Regions from separate parts of the Homo sapiens genome. Here all the other regions are linked to region 2. The links come from fine-mapping of genetic effects on gene expression. A gene starts in region 2. Each other region holds a variant in brackets. All regions are shown on one strand. Distances are between the middles of the regions.

Region 1 (5,149 bases), 57 kb after region 2:
TTTTATTTTTCTGTTTTTGCTTTAGTTTCTTAAAATGCTGTTACCATGGTGAAAGAAACTTGTGCTGCATACAAAATCTTTATTTATTTATTTATTTATTTTATTTTATTTTATTTTATTTGTTTTTTGAGACGGAGTCTCGCTCTGTCACCCCAGCTGGAGTGCAGTGGCACTATCTCAGCTCACTGCCAGCTCCGCCTCCCAGGTTCATGCCATTCTCCTGCCTCAGCCTCCCGAGTAGCTGGGACTACAGGTGCCTTTTTTGTATTTTTAGTAGAGACCGGGTTTCCCTGTGTTAGCCAGGATGGTCTCGATCTCCTGACTTTGTGATCCGCCCGCCTCGGCCTCCCAAAGTACTGGGATTACAGGTGTAAGCCACTGCACCACAAAACCTTAACATTGTACTTCAGTCAAAATTTTTGTATCCTATACACTTGGCCTAGGTATCTCAGAGTCAGAATCAAGATTTCTTTTTTTTTTTTTTTAGTAGATTAATGAATGACTCACTTTACTTACTTGAAATATTAGGAACTGAGTTAAAGGCAACTCCTTACAGATGGAGTTCTTGTTGTTATAACTGGAGTGCAGTGGTTGTTTACAGGCGTGATCATAGTGGACTGCAGCCTCAAGTTCCTGGGCTGATGTGATCCTCCTGCCTCAGTCTCCTCAGTAGCTTGGACTGTAGGCACAAGCCACCATGCCTGTAAAGTATTCTTTACTTTGCTAGAAATGTGTCAGTTTGTGACTTAAGATTTGTGTTTTGTGCTCATTTATTTTAATGACAAAGCAAACTTGTCACTCTTTCAGTGATTGCTTACTTATGGAAATAGTATTCAAAACAAAATTTTCAAGCAGAAGAGAGAAACGATAAAATTTGAGGACAAGGCCAGGTTTTCATAATAATAATTTCTAGCACACAAAATTAGATCCAAAGAAACCTGTGTACTACTTTGATACTTTATAGATCTTGGCATATTCATACTATTCTAAAGTTTCATACTAAACAGTACTTAGTCTAATTTGCCTTTTTATAGAGAGCTTAGGTTTTTGCGGAACCTGGGACACAGATTTCTTCTTATCTTTGTTTTTATTTCTTAACCATTACAACTGGCATTCAAAAAATATTTATAGAAAATGCTGTATTTGAGAGTGTGTGGGTATGTGTAAGCTTAGCTGTGATGAAAGAGTAATAGAGTCAGAAGCAGGGGAGATGACTTCTAGGGTTTTGTTTTTTTTTAAATCTTAAAATTTTTTTGTTATTTTAAAAAAATAGATATTATACTTACTGTGTACAAAGTTTTGAAGTATACATAACTGTGGAATGACTAAATCTAGCTAATTAACCTAGGCATCACCTTACATAGTTATCATTTTTATGGTGAGACACTTTACATCCACTCTTAACATTTTTCAAGAATATAGTATATTGTTAACTATAGTCACCATGTTGTACAATAGCTCAAGATGGATTCTAGTTTGGCCTGCTACTAACTCTGATTTTAGGCATAGTCATTTAGTCATTGCACCTGCTGCGATGGCTTCCTTGTCATTGTGAAATGACGTTATGGCTCCGATAACAGTCCAAGTTCCTTGTATTCTAAATCGCCAGGATTTTGTTTGGGGAAATAAGTACTTTCCATGAGGCTTACTTTCAAGTATAGAACTGAAGTGGAATAAAACTTATTCTTTTAGTCTAATATTCCACAGTCATCTTTAGCTAGAGATGCCATTAATACAGAGCTCTTGTGTTGAAAACTCAGGTACAATTTATTCATAGAAAATAACTTTCTGTTGTGAAATAGCAAAATGCAGTGTTCCCAATCCAAGTGTAAGTTTAATTTTTAGAGTAGACTGGGTGCAGTGGCTCACACCTGTAATCCCAGCACTTTGGGGAGGTGGAGGTGGGTGGATCACCTGAGGTCATTAGTTGGAGACCAGCCTGACCAACATGGTGAAACCCTGTCTCTACTAAATACCAAAAAAAAAAAAAAAAAAAAATTAGTGGGGCATAGTGGCGCATGCCTATAATCCCAGCTACTTGGGAGGCTGAGGCAGGAGAATTGCTTGATCTGGGAGGTGGAGGTTGCAGTGAGCTGAGTTTGCGCCATTGCACTCCAGCCTAGGTAACAGAGTGAAACTCTGTCTCAAAAAATATATATATAATATATATATATATTTTTTACGGTAGATTTTAAACACCAAAATTATGAAAAGAGACTGTAGCTAACCTTATTACATGCCAGTTCTTCTAATTTATTTAAGAATTATTTTAACTTTTTTTTTTTCATTCTATTTCAGGCTGGTACACCCCTCCAAAGGAAGATGGCTAAATGTGTTGACTGTTGTATGTTTGGACTAATGTTGCTTTAAAGAAAATCTTTCTAACATGCAGACAAAAGCTTTGAGTGCCCCTATTACAGCAGTACCGAAGATGTTAGTTAATAGATATTTTAGTGGATAATCTGTCATCTGACATCCAGTATAAGTTACAGCCTTTGCATTTTGCTCATTTTAGATATCTTGGACTGAGCAGTGGGGCCTTTACTGTATTTTTCCTGATAAATACACATACTGGCCACTCCTTATCTCTTTTTCTTGAAAAGTGAACTTTTTAAAGCAGCCAAGTCAACATCAGGCTACTGAAGTTGAGGCTTTAGGGTAACTTTCCTATATTGAGCCCATGGGTTACAAGGATTTGCAATATATTGTTCCATTTACAGCCAATACAGGTTTAATCGATGTTCAATATTGGTTTAGGAAATTTAAGGCCTTCTAAATCATAATAGCTCTTTCATGTCTAAAACCATTTTATGATATTGCCAAAATGTGATAGGAAACCTACTCATTAAATTGTTAAACTTTTTAATGACTATGTGAAGATATGAATTGTTTCCTGAAGATAATACTCTTAATTGAGTTGTATTGTACTTCTTAGGCAAAGCAGTGTAAAACTGTATCA[A/G]TTAAGGCTTGTGAGTAGTGATTTCCACTGGGGCATCAGAGTCTTGGCTGGGCTGAATCTGCTGCTTGTTGGTTCAGTGTTTCTTATGAACAAGAGCCACAGTACAGAGCTTCAAGTTATTTAAAATACTAAGTCATCTTACGTTTCCATTTTATTAACGGGATGTTGCAATCGTTTGTAAACTAATAAACTTATAAAGTGATTGGCACAAAGACTCCTTGAGCAAAAGCTGTGCAGTTAAGTACAAAAAGATACTTAATTTGGAGACTCTTACAGTAATTTTTGCCATGTCAAAACAATGGCTTTTACATTGAAAGATTAATAGAAACTCTACATATGTTAATTTTTTTATAGAACCTGACTCAAATCAAGGTACTCTCCATTTTATTGCCTTACCTGAATCAGTCCTTTTTGGTTGGTAATAGATTTTTTTATACACCCACGTTTGATTTAAAAGTAAATTCTAGTTCTTAAGCACTTTTAACAAATCCAGAAGCACATTTTTCTGCACAAACAAGTTACAAAGTTCAAAAGTGTTTCTTGTGCATTAGCTTTGAGATTCAGTTTTTAACTTTGTAAACCACATCTGAGAGACTTGTCATTTCTACATTGTGTGTGTTTAATTTCTTTTGATTCCATTTTGGTTAAGAGAGCAGTAAATAGATTTTCTGGTATTCTTGTTCACTTGATTACATTTGTATAAAGTTCTGATTGCCAGTTGCTCAGATAACAAGTGACAAGGCAGAATTCTTTAAATCAGTAAAGTTCCTTAAGCCTAAGGCTAAATCTTGAATACATTGTTGAATTCTTTAATATCCTGATGGCAAGCAGACTGATAGCTGCACATTTGGCATGCTTTGTTTAATGGATTTTATTTTTAATTGCAGATTTATTTGGCAATGTACAGTAAATTTTGTAAACTTGCATCAAGTTTATGAATAAAGAACCATTTAAAAATTTTGTTTGTGCTGATCATGGCAAGCAAAAAAAAGATTACTTTCTCATTTTTCCCTCATAAGAAAACTCTGCTTGATGTGTTTGTAGGCTTTATTGAGTTTCTGGAATAAGATATTTAAGGAGGGAAGTGGTGAGGGGAGGCTTGGAAGACAGGCAGATTTAACAAGAGAAAGTGAAAGTGTGAAAGAACCTGGAAATAGTCTGTACAATAGTCACCTTTTCCTCCGCCTTTTTCCTCTTCCATTCTCATTATAAATTCAAGTGCTACTTTTTCCTTATGGCTATCCTTAGTTCCCCCAGTGAAAATAATCTGCTCCTTCCTTAGCATACCCATGGCCTCCTTGCACACAATTGACAGATTATTTCACATACAAGAAGTCCAGAGGTAGGACAACTCCAGGTACTGTACATCTGGGCTTTGCTCTGCTTCCTTGAGATTTTTCTATGTTGGTTTCATCTTTTGGTTGCATGTTATGTGCAGCCCCCTTACTTGATCCAGAGGTAGATAAATGGCCCTGTCTTCTAGTGTCTCCTTAGGAGGTGAGGAAATCTCTAAAAGCACCATCCCATCAAGCACACTGCCTCTTGCCTTTCCTTGGCTACATCAGGGACCTGTGCCCACCCCTAAACCAATGGTGGTGAAAAGAATGAAACCATCGTGATTAGTTTGCACAAATGGTTCTCAAAGCCTTATTTGGGGAACACTGGAGACCCCTGAGACCATTTCAAGAGGTTTTAAAAGACTATTTTCATAATATTAAAACATTTGCCATTTTCACTCATTCTTCCATGTGTACAATGGAATTTTCCAGAGGCTACATGATGTGATTTTGCAACAGATTGAATTCAGAAGCAAATATGAGAATCTATTTGTCTTCTATTAAGACAAATTAAATATTTGCAAAAATGTAGTGATGCCGTCACTGGTAAACTGTCCTCTTTCCCTACTTTATATCAGCCACAAAGAAAGAACGCCCACTTTGAAAGGCAGTCAGGTTTCATTCAGTAGCCAGAGAATGGAGAAGGGGAGCTCATACTCTAAAGGCACCTTCTCCCAGAGGGATGGGAGGCTGGGGAGTTTAAAGAGTTAGCTGAGGGGCGGGGGAGGTATGAACGGCATGCACAGACTGGAGTTCCAGACAAGCAGGCATAGTCCCTGAACATGCTGCTTCATACATCCATGTTCGTAAGATGCCAGTGAGCTTTCTTTAGGGAGAGGATTTTAGCATTATG
Region 2 (5,149 bases):
AACTATTATACTATAGTCTGTGGCATGGTATTTCAGGGCTCAAAATCTGATCAAAAGTAATATCTCAACTTTATCTTTCTCTTGGCCCCTTGCTGTACTCTACAATCAAATGGGCTCTTGAATATCCTCTGAATATGGCCCTACTTTCATGCAAATAATTCATGGAATTAGTTTCTTCCTCCCCTGAAATGTAGTTCAGTAGTTTGAACCTCATATCACATATGATCTGATGTTGTCTTTACTTGTCTGTGTAAGACTATGGTGACTCCCCAGCAACCATTCCATCCCAGCAGGTTGGAAATCCAGAGTAATCCCATCTACTTCTCTGTGATTGGTTAGGGGTGGGCATGTGACACACTTCTGGCCAAGGACACACTAAGGGAAGTCTGCTGGGAAGATTCTTGGAAAGCTTCCCATGTGTTAGAAGGAAACATAGAAGAAAATGTCCTTTCTGCCTCTGGATATTTTCATGTCTGGATGTGAACTGCAAGAACAGCTACAGCCACCTTGCTCTCAACCCAACAAAAGAGATGGAAAGAATTTGGACTTTTGATGACATGAAAGCTCAGGTCAACCAATCCTGGAGACTGTTCTGTCTTTGGACTTCCTATTATGTGAAGTAATTTATTTCCTTATTGTCCAAGGCAGATTAAATCACAGTTTTCTATTATTTGCAGCCAAAAGCATCAGGAAACAATATTTTGTTTTTGATGCTAAATGTTAAGCTTCTTAAAATCAGGGACTGTATCTATGTATCTTTCTAGCCCTCTTACAGCTTGGCATGCAGCAGATGGATGCTCAAAAAGCGACTGTGAAATTAATATTTGTATATATTTCTGGGATACAACTAGTAAAAACACTTGCAATTTAAAAAGCTCTATTTTCTCACAGCAATCTAGAGGTAACAAAATAAAGCTTAGACAGATTAAATAGCTTGTTTAGGGAATTTTGTTTCTCGAAGTCATACCAACTTCTCAAGAGTTTGTTGCTCTTTGTCTCAAATCCTTATCTGGGAATGCCATGCCTGTTAGGGTCCCAAGAAACTGGGGACTGAAGGAAAAATAAAGTGGCAAGCCACTTCTGTGCTTAACCCAGCAATAATGCTAATACAGTAGCCTAGTTGTTTCTGGCTCAGAACCCAGGCCTGGAACCCCTTCTTCTCCCAGTCCCAGTGTATAGTGTGGTAGCTCTAGTGCTGGGGTCATGAATCCCCATAAGTACAAAATTTTAGATGCAGAAGTATTTTCCTGGGAAGATGGATCATAGCTTTTATTAGATTCTCAAAGGGGTCTGTGAGAATCTTAGTCTTCTTAAAGGCTAGATAGAAGTTGGGGTAGAAGATGGTAGAAGTTGGGGCATGGCCAGGAAAAGTTAGGGCTGGTTTGAATGATAAGAGACTGAATTTGTAGGCTGTGGGGAGCTACTAACTTACTGAGGTAAATTGGAAAAGTTTATTTGTCTTCTTAAAGGCTAAGGACTATAACATGATACAAAATCTCAGAAGTAGATGGAAATAAAAACTTTCAGTAGACTTAATGTGTCCCTGTGTTGTTCTGTATTTTGTCATCTAAGGGGACCAGTAGCCCAGGGATCTCTTGTAGATTAGGAAGAAAGAGACAGGTGTCAGGGTTGGGTAACTCTAGGTAAGACTGGAAAAGGAAAATGCGGAGCCCCTTTCTGAAAAATTACGAATTTCAAAATGGCGACACCAGAATATTAAACCAAGCTCGAAGCCCTTCTAAGCTGGGAGCACTGTGCAACTACATAGGTTGGACGCATATGCAGCTGGTCCTGCCTCTTGCACTTACGATTGCACACACTATTGTCTGCCAAATTGGGATGTATTCCTTTGGACTGCTATCCAGACCTTTATTCATTTTTTGAGCACCTACAATGTGCCAGGAATTGTGCTAGTGGTGGGGATTCCAGATAAGAGCGAGCATTCAATTCAATCATATCGGGTTTCTACTATATAACAGGTCTTGTTCTAGGTCCTGGGGATACAGCTCTGAACACATTAACACGGGGCAGAGACAAGGAATAAATGGGTTAAAGATCAGATAGTGACAGGTGCCCAACAAAAACTTAGCACAGGACGATGTGACACAGGGTGACTATTTGAAATGGGTTGTGGTGGGGGGTGCCGGAGATGATATTTGAGCTATGAGTTTAGTGAAAATAGTGGGCAGCCCTAGCTCCATGGGGGTGTGGGTGGGGAGGGTTATCTTAAGCTTGGGAAACAAGGCAAAATAAGGAAAGGGGGGAGAGAGAGACTATATACGGCAGAGTGAACACAGGTGGTAGCTAAGGGAAGGGATGAAATCATGGGACACCTCCAGGCAACAGCCTCCAGGGGCTAAACCATCGTCTTGGGTAAATGGATGGTTTGAGAGCAAAGGCGGGAGCAGCGAGTCCGGTGAGAAGGTCCTCACAGGAACCCAGGCTGGTGAGAAGGTCCTCACAGGAACCCAGGCTAGCGAAGCGGTGGCTCGGACTAGGGTGAAAGTAGCGGAGGTAACGCTGGGTGAGCCGCACCCGCGTCTCCCACGAGGTCCCCCCAGTGAGGTTAGCGGGTGCCGCGCCGAGCGCCAAGCTGAGGAGCCGCCCCCAGGGGCTGGCGCTAGTCTGCAGCGGCGCCGACGTGGCCGGCGCGATCCGCCACGCACGTGTCCGGCTCCAGGCCGGGGGCGGGGGCGCGCGGGGGTCTCCGGCTCCTCCCCGACTTCTGGGGCCCGGGCGCCAGCTGGCCCCGAGCCTCCAGTCCGCGGGTGCGAAGAACGGAGCAGATGGGTCGGGAACAAGGGAGCTGGGTCAAGGCGAGGAGGGGGCGGCCGGGCGCGCGCGCTCTGGCCTCGTGCACGCGCTGAAACCGGAGCGCGCAGGGCGCGCCAGGGTGAGGGGGACGGGGGCGGGGTGGGGGCAGCCCTTTCCCAGGCGGTAGCGGGGGCGGCGTCGCTGTTGCCCTTTTAAGCCGCGGGGCCGCCGCCTCCTGCCGCTGGAGTCGGTTACAAAGGAAGCGCCACCCAGGCCGCCACACGCCGAGGCTTCCGCGCCCCTCGCCATTTTCCAGCAGCGCTCGACGAGGCGGAGCCGCGAGAGCGCGGCCCAGGCCGGCCCCGCGGGGCGGTCGCGGCCGTGACGGCGGCTCCGGGCCCGGCTCCCCTTCCGCGCCCGGCTCCCCTTCCGCGCCCCTCCCGCCGGAGATGAGGGGAAGATGTCCGTGTCAGGGCTCAAGGCCGAGCTGAAGTTCCTGGCGTCCATCTTCGACAAGAACCACGAGCGATTCCGCATCGTCAGTTGGAAGCTGGACGAGCTGCACTGCCAGTTCCTGGTGCCGCAGCAGGGCAGCCCGCACTCGCTGCCGCCGCCACTCACGCTCCACTGCAACATCACGGTGAGGCGCCCGGCCGCGGCCCCGCGGGGCAGGGCGAGGACGGAGAGGGGGCGCTTCGAGTCCCGGGACAAAGGGGAGCCTGCCCCGGAGAGGCTCCGGCTCCCCGGGCGGGGCAGGCCCGCCCCTTTCCCCCGCGACTTGCCCATCCCAGGCCGGGCTGGGACTGCGCGAGGCTTGGGTGGGAGGAGGCGGAGGGCGCGTCTTTCCGGCTTCTCGCCAGGGGCTGGCTTGGGGGCTTCTGGCCCATCTCGGTCCCCGTCTCCTAGCCCCGAGGGGGGAGTCCGCGGCGGCCCAAGCCCTTGTGGGGTCCATGGCCGCCCTCAGCCGGCCTGCTCCCGGGACCGGGGCGGGGCGGGGCGGGGCGGCGCAGCTCCGGCTGTTGTTTGAGCCCAGGCCGGCAAGGGGAACGGCCCTTAAGTTTTAACGCCTCATTTTTCAGTCGGATTTTCCTTCTTCCCGCTTGTTCAGCCAATTGTTTTTAAGTTTGCGTTTAAGGAGAAACTGACAATGAGAATGGACTCGTTGACGGAGGAAAAGTTGGAATGCAGACTCTGGTGCTGTTTGAGCGACCCCTCTCCCCCGGGCCTGGCTGCGCGCTGCTGTGTTCTGGAAAGGAGCATAGTACCGTCGTTGCGGCAGGTGGTGTTGAGTGTGTATTCGTGTGGCCCCTCCCTTGTGTGTAAGCCTCGAAAATGGATAGGTGAAAGGAGATACGCGCCAGGGCTGCTCCCCGGAAAGATCACGTATGTCACAAAGCCGAAAAGACACTTTTAAAAACTCACTCATTAAGCGGAAATCTCATTAGAAACCCAAGGCTTGGTAAAGGAATTGAAGTATTAAGTTTCTCCATAAAAGTGTATCGTGAAGCTATTCGTCGTGAAATTGATGTAGGATATTGGTCCAAACTGCAGAATATTCTCTTGGTTATAATAGGCGTCAAGGTGGTGGCTTCGGGCTCCTTTTCAAACATGGCTAAAACCAAGTCTTGTTTTTAACTCCCTTTGGTTGAGTCAGTGGGTACTCAAGTGCCTGCAGGGTGGCTGGCGTTTGCAAAAACCTTGATGTTATAATTGACCTTAAAATGGTTACCAGACTATCTGGGCAGAAGGTGTGTTAATTTCAAAAAAAAAAAGACAAGTGCTGTACTGAGGAGATAATTCATTTATTGAATGAATACGTCTGAGTGTTCTGGGCACTAGTGTTGCAGAATTGAGTGAAGTCGTCCTCGCTCTCAGAACTCAGTCTTCTTGGGGGAAGAGTTCAATAAGGTGACAGCTCCTGTGGTATCATCAGGAAAGCCAAAGCAACTAATTTTGACTTGGGGGAGGTGCGCTTCAGGGAAGGCTTTGATGAGAGGCTGAGACAGTTAGAGATGAGCTTCCACAGGTGACTACAATTTTGGAAGGCTGGCGGAAGGGCATTTTAGACTGAGGAAACTCCACCCAAAGAAGACACGGAGATTTGAGAAAGTGTGGTTTCCTTAGAAGTAGAAAATTTATGCTAAGACTTGAGAAGCCCACGATACAGGCTGGAGAAGGGGAGGATTTTCCAAGAGTGGAAAACAGAAAGTGTAGTAGTTGTCATGAAGCAGGTGTTTTAAGGAGACGGGCCTGAATGGCTTCGAGGGTGATTACTCTGGTAGAAGTTGGGGCATGGCCACGAAAAGGTAGGGCTGGTTTGAATGATAGGAGACTGAATTTGTAGGCTGTGGGGAGCTACTAAGTTTACTCAGGTAAGTTGGGAGAATGTATCTTT
Region 3 (5,149 bases), 140 kb after region 2:
TGAGAGAAAGCACATTTGGTGAATTGCAGATGGCCACAAATTCTTTGTCACTCCTCTCACTGAGTGCTGGGGTCTATTTCCCCTCCCTTTGAAACTCAGTGGCCCTATGACTTGCTTTGACAAGGAGAATATGGTAGATGATGCTTCATAATTCTTAAAGTTAGGCATTAACAGATCAACAGCTTCCACTGTCGTCTATTGGAATACTCCCTTTTGGTCTCCATGTATGAAGTCTGACTATCCTCTGGGGAGAGAGACCTGAATCTACTTTAAATGTTTCAGATCCTGCCAAATACCCAGCTGAACACAGCTCCTGAGTAACCCTTGCCAATACCATGTAGAGGAGAACAACCACCCAGCATCACCTGCTTGAATTCCCAAGAATTCTGAGTAAATTATAATATGGTTGCTATTTTAAGCCACTGAGTTTTGGGGTAGTATGTTACACAGAAACAGATAATCCTAGAAGTAAGGTGTTTGTGTAACTAAAAACTTAAAAATTTGTGGCATTGGATTTTGGACCAAGCAGTAGGTGGAGGCCTAAGGGGCAGTAAGGAAACTGCTAGTAGCAGCTGCAAGTACAATGAGGAAATTGCTATTGAAGGCTGAATGCAGCCCTGTGAGTGACCCAAGATGACACCATGTAGAGTGGCACTGCCTAGGTGAGACCAGCCCAAATACCTGTCAAATGGTCGTTTTTGAAGCTACTGATTTTTAGGGTTGTTTTTATGCAAAATAGATAACCAAACTACAAAATATAAGTGAAGATATGCCAGAGGAAATTTAACCACAGAAATGGATAATATGTTTTAAAATCAGAAAAGAGGCTATTTTGATAAATTCTTTACCAATAAATTTGAAAACCTGGATGAATTGGAAAATTTTGCTTAAAAATATAACTTACAAAAAAAAAATCACCCCCAAAGAAACAGAAAATCTAATACAGACTGATTTACAGAGAAGAAAATTCAAATAGATCATTCTCCATAAAACAAATTTAGGAACTATTGCTAAGAAAACCTAGATCCAGACAGCTTCATAGAGAATTCTTCCAGACTTTAAACATTAGATAATTCTAATGCTAAACTATTCTAAAACTTAGAAAAGGAGAAAAATATTCAAACTCCTTCAATGAAATAAGGATATTGTCGATCCCAAAACCTAACAAAGATTGTACCAATAAGAAAACCGTAGGTCATTCTCACGAATGTCAACACAAAAATCCTCAATAAAATACAATAAGAATCAGCAGACCATAAAAGAATAGTAAGTGGGCCATACTCCAGAAATACAAGAATGATTCAAAATCAGGACTAATAATACAATTCATCATGTAGATATAGTTAAAGAGAAAAAAACATGATCATGTCCTTAGACTGTAAAAAAGCATTCGATAAAATTCAATGGCCATTCTTGATTTAAAACAATAAGTGGAATATGAGAGGTTCCACTTCTGGGTATGACTAGCTAAGATGCTATAGAATGACCACCACTTCTAGCTCCCTGCAGAAAACTATAAAGACTTGGACAAAATATGAAAAGCAAATACCTGAAGGTCCAGGAGAATGAAGAGATAAAGACAGATTCTGGAGGGGAGGTCACGCTAGTTTGGAGGAAGTACAAGTAAATTCCTGCTTCTGCAGCTTTTAGCCTGGGGCTAAGCCACCTAGTGAGTACAGCAGCTATGGGGGCCTTGCATGGAAGAACTCTTTCTGATCTGAGGAACTAGAAAAAAGAAGCTATGAAGCCATGAATGCTGAAAGAGTAGGAGAATTCTGGGTGAGCATGAGCCAAAGAGGGGATCCCCAAGCCCAAGCTGTCTCCCCACATCTCTAACGGACACCTGAACTAGGTAGGCTCAGAACAAATTTAAAACAGACCATCTAAAAACAAAACATCTGAACAGACTGGACCTTCTACATAAGAAAACATGTTTGCAGTAGAAGCCCAGCCAAGAAAATTGCTTACTAAACAAAGGAAACCATGCTTATCAGAAAAATAATAGCATTTAGAATATCCATAATCTAAAACTCCTAATGTCCCAGAAACAATCCAAAATCACCAAGTATACAAAGAACCAAAAAATCAAATGTTCTCAAGAGAAAGAAAATAAATTGAGTCCAAACCCAAGACGAACCAGATATTGGAACAAACAGACAAGAATCAAGCCGCTAATATAACTATCCTCAATGAAGCAAAACATATTTACAATGCATAAAAAGTCTTAGCAGAGAAATGGTAAGTCTCAGCAGAGATACAGAAACAAACAAAGACATTGA[G/T]ATCTGAAAACTAATAAAAACCCTCAATAAAATAGAAATATAGTTACTTCCTTAGCATGATAAAATATATCCATCCCAGCCAAAAATTAGCATCAGATTTCCTGGAAAAAGTAAAGACATTCCCATCAAAGTTAAAAAACAATAAAAAGTAAAAAACACTCACTGCTACCCCTATTATTTAATATTGTACTGAAGGTCCTAACCACAATTAGACAAGATACAGAAATAAAAGGCACAGCCATTAGAAGGAGATAAGTAAAACTATTGCTATTTATAGATGATATGATTATACATCTTGAAAACCCAAAGGAATAAAATAAAAAACTCCTACAAATAGTAACATAACTCAATAAGATAGCAGGGGAAATTAACATAAAGAAATCACTAGCTTTCTTATATACAGACAATAATTAGAAGATAGGCAGGAAAAGCCCCAGTCACAATACAAACAAAATGATGAAATAACTAAGAATAAATTTAAGAAATATGTAAAACCTATATGAGGGAAATTCTAAAACATATTCTAGGCTAAATAGATTCAACTTTATAAACATATAAATTCTAAATTAATTTATGAATATAAATGTTATCCCAATATCTATAGGAAGAAAGCTTTAAAACACATTCTAGATGAAATAAATTCAATCTTATAAACATCTAAATCCTAAGTTAATTTATGAATATAAATGTTACCCCAATATCTAAAAACAAAAATGATAAAAGTTCCTGAAAAAATACATGGCAGGGGAGAGACGAACAGGCAGAGCACAGAGGATTTTTAGGATAGCGAAAATACCTGGTATGATAGTATAATGGTGGATACATGTCATTACATTTGTACAGACCCATAGAATGTACAACACCATCGGTGAACCCTGAACTATGGACTTTGGTGATTATGATGTGTTGATGCAGGTTCCTCAATGGTAATGAATGTACCATTCTGGTTGGTGGTGTTGATAACGGGGGAGGCCTTGCATGTGTCACGGCAGGGGGTATATACAGGGAAGTCTCTGTACCGTCCTCTCAATTTTGCTGTGAACCTAAAACTGCCCTTTAAAAGGGGTCTTTTTACTTAGAACCAACCCAAATGTCCATCAGTGATAGACTGGATGAAGAAAATGTGGCACATATACACCATGGAACACTACACAACCATAAAAAAGAATGAGTTCATGTCCTTTGCAGGGACATGGATGAAGCTGGAAACCATCATTCTCAGCAAACTAACACAGGAACAGAAAACCAAACACCGCATGTTCTCACTCATAAGTGGGAGTTTAACAATAAGAACACACGGACACAGGCATGGGAACATCACACACCAGGGCCTACTGGGAGGCAGGGGGCTAGGGGAGGAATAGCATTAGGAGAAATACCTAATGTAGATGACGAGTTGATGGGTGCAGCAAACCACCATGGCACGTGTATACCTATGTAACAAACCTGCATGTTCTGTACATGTATCCCAGAACTTAAAGTATAATAAAAAAAATTGTTTAAAAAATTGGCAAATAATTTTTTTTAAAGCAGTTTTTGTTTTGTTTTGTTTTGTTTTGTCTTGAGACAGAGTTTTGCTCTGTCACCCAGGCTAGAATGCAGTGATGCAATCTCAGTTCACTGCAACTTCCACCTCCCAGGTTCAAGTGATTCTTGTGCTTCAGCCTCCCATGTAGCTGTGACTACAGGCACGCCTCACCATGCCAGGCTAATTTTTGTATTTTTAGTAGAGACTAGGTTTCACCATGTTAGCCAGGCTGGTCTCGAACTCCTGACCTCAAGTGGTCTGCTTGCCTCAGCATCCCAAAATGCTGGGATTACCGGCATGAGCCACTGCACCAGGCCAAAAAAGTCTTTAATTAAACAAAAGGGAAAAAAATAAGGGTAAGTTCCATTATAACTCCCAGGAAGACTCAATGGACTCAATACATAGTTTTACCCACAGTAATGATTTATTACAGCAAAAAGATACAAAGCAAAAACTACAAAGGGAAAAGATACATGGGATGAAGTCTGAAGGAAATGAGGCACAAGCTTCGAAGAGTTCCCTCCTAGTGGAGTCACACAGAACAAGCCTAATTCCTCTAGTAATGAATTGTGACAATTTAAGTGAAGTGTTATCTACTAGGGAAGCTCATCAGAGACTTAGTGTCCAAGATTTTTCATGGAAACTGTTCATATATGTATCTTCTGCCTCGCATATACCAAAATTCCAGACTCCCAAAAGAAAAGCAGGTATTCAGCATAAACCACAATGCTTATACAGTTCAGGCATACGGAGACATCCTTATCATTTAGGAAAAGTTTCATTTAAGTATAGAGAACTGTATGCCAACTAAGTTTCTAAACACCAGCAACGGCCAACTTCGCAAGGAGGCCTTTCTAAGGATAGCAGTCTAAGACCTGCTCTGTCAACTCTATTCTCCACATCTTGAATATAAAAAATCAAATTATAAGTCAACATCCAAAACCCATAAAAGACTGATAAAATTAAGTATGTAAAAATAAAAAATAAAACTTAATTATGGCCAAAATTTATCAAGAAAAAAATCACAAGACAAGTGACAAACTAGAAGAGAATGTTTGCAACTCATATCTCAGTCAAAAAGATAATATAGCTTTTAATAGTATCTTTATTATATAAACAATTTCTACGATGGCTACTATAAGAATACAACTTAATAGAACAACTAGGGAAAAACTGTTGACACAAAAGGAAACACATATGGCTCAACCTCACCTATCAAAAGATTGAATTAAAAGTAACAGTGAGATACCATTTCTCATCTATCAGATTGGTAAGAACCCAAAATTAGACCACATATGCTGCTATCAGCTTGGTAAAAACCCCAAATCAGATAACGTTTTCA
Region 4 (5,149 bases), 190 kb before region 2:
AGCATCCAGCAGGATGAGGACCTGGTCATCTTTAGCGAGACCTCACTGGATGGCTGGCTGCAGGGCCAGAACAGCCGTGGGGAGACAGGGCTCTTTCCTGCCTCTTATGTGGAGATCGTCCGTTCTGGCATCAGCACCAACCATGCTGACTACTCCAGCAGCCCTGCAGGCTCTCCCGGAGCCCAGGTGAGCTTGTACAACAGCCCCAGTGTGGCCAGCCCAGCTAGGAGTGGTGGGGGCAGTGGCTTCCTCTCAAACCAGGGTAGCTTTGAGGAGGATGATGATGATGACTGGGATGACTGGGACGACGGATGCACAGTGGTGGAGGAGCCACGGGCTGGTGGGCTGGGCACCAACGGGCACCCTCCCCTCAACCTCTCCTACCCTGGTGCCTACCCCAGCCAGCACATGGCCTTCCGGCCCAAGCCACCACTGGAGCGGCAGGACAGCCTGGCATCTGCCAAGCGAGGCAGTGTGGTGGGCCGTAACCTCAACCGTTTCTCATGCTTTGTGCGTTCTGGAGTGGAGGCCTTCATCCTGGGTGATGTGCCCATGATGGCCAAGATCGCTGAGACATACTCCATTGAAATGGGCCCTCGTGGCCCCCAGTGGAAGGCCAATCCCCACCCATTTGCCTGCTCTGTGGAGGACCCCACAAAACAGACCAAATTCAAGGGCATCAAAAGCTACATCTCCTACAAGCTCACACCCACCCATGCTGCCTCACCCGTCTACCGGCGCTACAAACACTTTGACTGGCTCTATAACCGCCTGCTACACAAGTTCACTGTCATCTCGGTGCCCCACCTGCCTGAGAAGCAGGCCACTGGCCGCTTCGAGGAGGACTTCATCGAAAAGCGGAAGCGGAGACTCATCCTCTGGATGGACCACATGACCAGCCACCCTGTGCTCTCCCAGTACGAAGGCTTCCAGCATTTCCTCAGCTGCCTGGATGACAAGCAGTGGAAGATGGGCAAACGCCGGGCGGAGAAGGATGAGATGGTGGGTGCCAGCTTCCTGCTCACCTTCCAGATCCCCACCGAGCACCAGGACTTGCAGGACGTGGAAGATCGCGTGGACACTTTCAAGGCCTTCAGTAAGAAGATGGACGACAGCGTCCTGCAGCTCAGCACTGTGGCATCAGAGCTGGTGCGTAAACATGTGGGGGGCTTCCGCAAGGAATTCCAGAAGCTGGGCAGTGCCTTCCAGGCCATCAGTCATTCCTTCCAGATGGACCCCCCCTTTTGCTCTGAGGCCCTCAACAGTGCCATTTCTCACACGGGCCGTACCTATGAAGCCATCGGGGAGATGTTTGCTGAGCAGCCCAAGAATGACCTCTTCCAGATGCTGGACACACTGTCTCTCTACCAGGGCCTGCTCTCCAACTTCCCTGACATCATCCATCTACAAAAAGGTAAGGCCCAGTGCAGGCAGGAAACTCGTCCTGAGTCTGGCTCTCTGCTGGGCCCTGGGGAGATGGGGATGGCCTGGATAGAATGGAGCAACTTGTCTTTATTTCTCTGTCTCAATCATTCATTTAACAAATGTGTTGGGCTGGGCACGGTGGCTTACGCTTGTAATCTCAGCACTTTGGGAGGTTGAAGTAGGAGGATCACTTGGGCCCAGGAGGTTGAGACTACAGTGAGCCCGATTGTGCCACTGCACTCCAGCCTGGGTGACAGAGTGAGACCCTGTCTCTAAAACAAACAAACAAACAAACAAACAAACAAATGTGTTGAATATCAACTCTGTGTCTGTGGCAAATGTGCTTCTAGGTGCAGGGATATTGTTGTGCACAGGCCCGGTCTCTGTCCTCATGGAGCTTGATATTTACCTTCTTGTCAGTTCATTCATTTTCTCTGTTTGCATCTCGTTTACCCATCATGCATGGTGTCATGCTGGGTTCTGAGAACACATAGATGACCAGGCCCCAGGCCTTGCCCTTGAGGAGCCGGTAGGCCCTTGGGAGACACAGACCCAACCCAGATAACAAGAGCTCAGAGTGGGGGCCTGTCTTGTGCTCCTTGCAAGTTAACCTCCCCACCTTTGCAGCTTTGGAAGCTACTCTCACCACTGTGTATTCTCTTTATGAGCGTCTTGTCTGTGTGCAGGAAGATCCCTGTCCCCATTTTGCAGATGAAGGAGCTAGTGTCCACAGAAGAGTGGTTGCACAGCCTGTGGCCCGGCTGGGACTGTCCCTTCCTCCTGCCACCTCCCCAAGGACACGTCCATGTTGGCCACTTCCCAAGCCTAGCCATGTTTTCAGTTCTCATGACCCCCTCTGTGGGGGAGGGACAGGATGGGCCTCTGCCTGTTACTGCTGGGGCTGTCCATGAACTGCCGGGGAAATGACTCATCCTGGGTCACACAGGGGCACTCTGGCTGGGCCAGGGGTGCAGAATCAGGGGTCCAGGGCACTGTCCACATGGCCTATCCAACTCCTGCTTCCCAAGCCTGGCTTCTCTTCTTGCCTGAGGAGAGAGCCAGTGGCTGCCCCAGCAGGTGCCTGAGTCCTGGGCACAGCTGGGAGGGCAGATGTCAGGAGAGAGGTGTGATCCTCCCTGGGGCTGCTTGGTAACTCGTCTGCAGGGCGTGGAGCTGGCTCCCTGGCCCTTGGGCCCTGAGGTTAGACCTGGCTTGGTGGGGAGTTTGACTCTGGGTGGGGCCAGGGGGCAGACCTCTGCACTGAGCCTGGGGAACAGGAAACATGTCACCCACCACCACCAGGGAGGGCCTGGGGTAAGCTGGCCTTGCTTTCCTTTACCAAGAGGTTGACTTCTATAACTTCTCCAGCTCCCAGCCTCCTTTCTCCCCTTGCTATATCCTCTTCCTCTTCCTTTCTTTC[TG/T]TTTTTTTTTTTTTTTCTCTCATCTCTACCTTTCTTCCTCCTCCTCTGAACTCCAGGAAACACAAACCTGAGTGCTAGTCTTGGCTCTGCCCCTAGATTGCTGTGCGTCCCCGGGGAGTGCCTTTGCCCCTCTGGGCCTTAGTTTCCTGATCTGTAAAACAAGGGAATGGGGTCCCAGTGAGCCATCAGGCCTTCAAGGGAGTGGGTGGGAAGGGACTCCTGGGGAGGGTATGGCTCAGAAACAGAATGACACCTTAGCTCTGGCTCTGAGCACTGGGGCAGGAGTAGGGCAGGGGAGGTGGCCAGGCCTGCTGGGGGCCCACTGGGGCAGGTGTCTCCCTGAGCACAAGTGGGAAGGCTGGTTCAACCAGCTCCTTAGATGGCTTGTTCCTGTGCAGGCAGCAGGAGGGGGAATGCAATGATTAAACAGATGCTCCCATGCAGTGGCTGGGGACCCCCCACCCAGAGCAGAGCTGAGGACATTAGGGCAGCCCCACACCTAGGAAGGACACCAGGGCCTCCCAGGCTGGGGGGAAGCCAGACCAGCCTTTCTGACCCTGGGCAGAGAGACAGAGCTGAGATAGGCCATTTCTGAGTTTCTACTTGAGGTGTTTCTAAGAGTCAGAGGCCACTGTCCTCTGTGCTGGTGCATTTGACCTGAAACAGAGGCCAGCCCACTGCCTTCCCTCCCCGGGAGGACCCCTCCCAATGGGCCAAGCCCTCTCTGGCTTACTCTAAGTTCTGGGCTCTGCACTGCTCCTCCCAGGCCTGTGGTGTGGGGCAAGTTAGGGAGGGGGTACTGAGACAGAACTGGACAGGCTTTGGGGACCACAGCCCAATGGGAGTGATAAGGAGGGGGTCCTAATGCTGGCCTTAGGGGTGGAGCCCTTCTCAAAGAAAAGAGAAGAACAGTTGGGTCCTGGGCCCCCAGGATTCTGTCCAGCCTGTCTGGACATCTGAATGGGTGGTGAGTGTGTGGGAGGAAGGACAGTGGAGGCCTAGGTGGGAGTCAGGAGACCAGGATTTGGACAAACTTTGCATCTGACATGACTTTGGGAGAGATTTCTCCCCTCAGTCTCTAGGTGAGTAAAATGGGACCCGAGGGTCTTCATTTCCTTAGGAGGGCTCCATGTCATGTGAAACTTACATTAAACAAATTTGTATGCTTTTCAGAAAAATAATAAAATGAAATAAAATGGGACATAAACCCTGGCTGGAGCTGAGAGGAGCCTGGTCCTCCCACGGGCCTAGTCCCTGTAGCCCAATCCAGGGGTCTCCTAAGAGAAGGGTAACCATATAATTAACCAGGGCAGTTTGGGGCATAAAAGGGGGCCCTAGCAATAGTGATCCCGGGACAACAGGGGAAAGTAACTGTCCAGGGCAAGCTGGGACGTATGGACCCCCAACTTGACAGCCAGCAAGAGCGGGGCTGGTCCTAAGGCTCACGACAGGTCAGGAGGGCGATGTGGTCACTTCCGTTTTACAGACGAGGTGCAGCGATGCAGATGAGCCTCAGAGCAGGAGCTGGAGTCCAGTGTGTCTGGCTCCGCAGCCCAGGCTGTTTCCACTGTGCCCTCCCAGATGGGGGAGGGGATCCCCAGGGATGGAGAGCTGAGCCAGAAGGCGAAAGAGGAGGGAGGAAGGCTTGGGTGCTCCTTCACTGGTCCTGTGGGCTAGAGAGAGGCCCAGGACCACAGAGCTTCCATGGAGGGGCCATAGGGACAGCGTGGCCAAGGCAAAGTGGCGACTGTAGGGACAAGTTCTTGCCTGGGGGATGGGTGGGTTCAGCCTCTGGGTTCTGAGCCATCATCTAGCCTTCCCTCTACCGCTCATCCTGTAATCTCAGCACTTTGGGAGGCCGAAGTGGGCGGATCACAGGAGTTCGACACCAGCCTGGCTAACATAGTGAAACCCTGTCTCTACTAAAAATACAAAAAAATAGCCAGGCATGGTGGCAGGTGCCTGTAATCCCAGCTACTTGGAAGGCTGAGGCAGAAGAATTGCTTGAACCCAGCAGGCGGAGGTTGCAGTGAGCCGAGATCAAGCCACTGCACTCCAGCTTGGGCAGCAGAACAAGACTCCATCTCAAATTAAAAAAAAAAAAAAAAAAGAAAAGAAAAGCAGTTTTCAAGCCATAACATGTAGCATCTGGAGCTTCTATTGTATCTCAGGTGCGCTCCTTTGAACTGTGTACATATTAGTTCAGTTAAGCCTCAACTATACTATAGGGCAGGTACTATTATTATCCCATTTTACAGATGTGGAAACTCCTTAAAGCACTATACCGTGTGAGAGGTTGTCAA

Which allele goes with the higher level. Alleles are on the strand shown, and positions count from the first base shown. SD is a standard deviation of normalised expression in the study named. Not every link is listed here.
With allele G in place of T in region 3, the expression in monocytes after interferon gamma of the gene that starts at base 2,995 in region 2 is higher (moderate effect, 0.63 SD a copy in Fairfax 2014).

Evidence for each region. PIP is the estimated chance that this variant, and not a neighbour inherited with it, causes the effect.
Region 1: its variant is the best candidate, but not a certain one, in a credible set for the expression of UBE2Q2 in whole blood (TOPMed, PIP 0.89).
Region 3: its variant is the best candidate, but not a certain one, in a credible set for the expression of UBE2Q2 in monocytes after interferon gamma (Fairfax 2014, PIP 0.74).
Region 4: its variant is the best candidate, but not a certain one, in a credible set for the expression of UBE2Q2 in spinal cord (GTEx, PIP 0.79).

Annotation. Positions count from the first base shown.
Region 1 is chr15:75,897,129-75,902,277 of GRCh38, forward strand. UBE2Q2 (ubiquitin conjugating enzyme E2 Q2) reads left to right here. Exons shown (of 13, transcript NM_173469.4): 13 at 2,299-3,950. The coding sequence ends at 2,330. Among named protein-coding and RNA genes, the nearest start is that of FBXO22, 4.2 kb to the right of the region's middle. The variant A/G (reference allele first, on the strand shown) is at 2,960.
Region 2 is chr15:75,840,453-75,845,601 of GRCh38, forward strand. UBE2Q2 (ubiquitin conjugating enzyme E2 Q2) reads left to right here and starts at 2,995. Exons shown (of 13, transcript NM_173469.4): 1 at 2,995-3,394. The coding sequence starts at 3,215. RefSeq lists silencers at 2,576-2,755, 2,796-2,935, 3,076-3,155, 3,406-3,805 and an enhancer at 3,077-3,974.
Region 3 is chr15:75,981,021-75,986,169 of GRCh38, forward strand. All of the region lies in intron 3 of NRG4 (neuregulin 4), which reads right to left. Among named protein-coding and RNA genes, the nearest start is that of NRG4, 29 kb to the right of the region's middle. The variant G/T (reference allele first, on the strand shown) is at 2,280.
Region 4 is chr15:75,649,160-75,654,308 of GRCh38, forward strand. It overlaps SNX33 (sorting nexin 33), which reads left to right. Exons shown (of 2, transcript NM_153271.2): 1 at 1-1,414. Among named protein-coding and RNA genes, the nearest start is that of SNX33, 3.8 kb to the left of the region's middle. RefSeq lists enhancers at 1,926-2,862, 3,827-4,379, 4,380-4,931. The variant TG/T (reference allele first, on the strand shown) is at 2,846.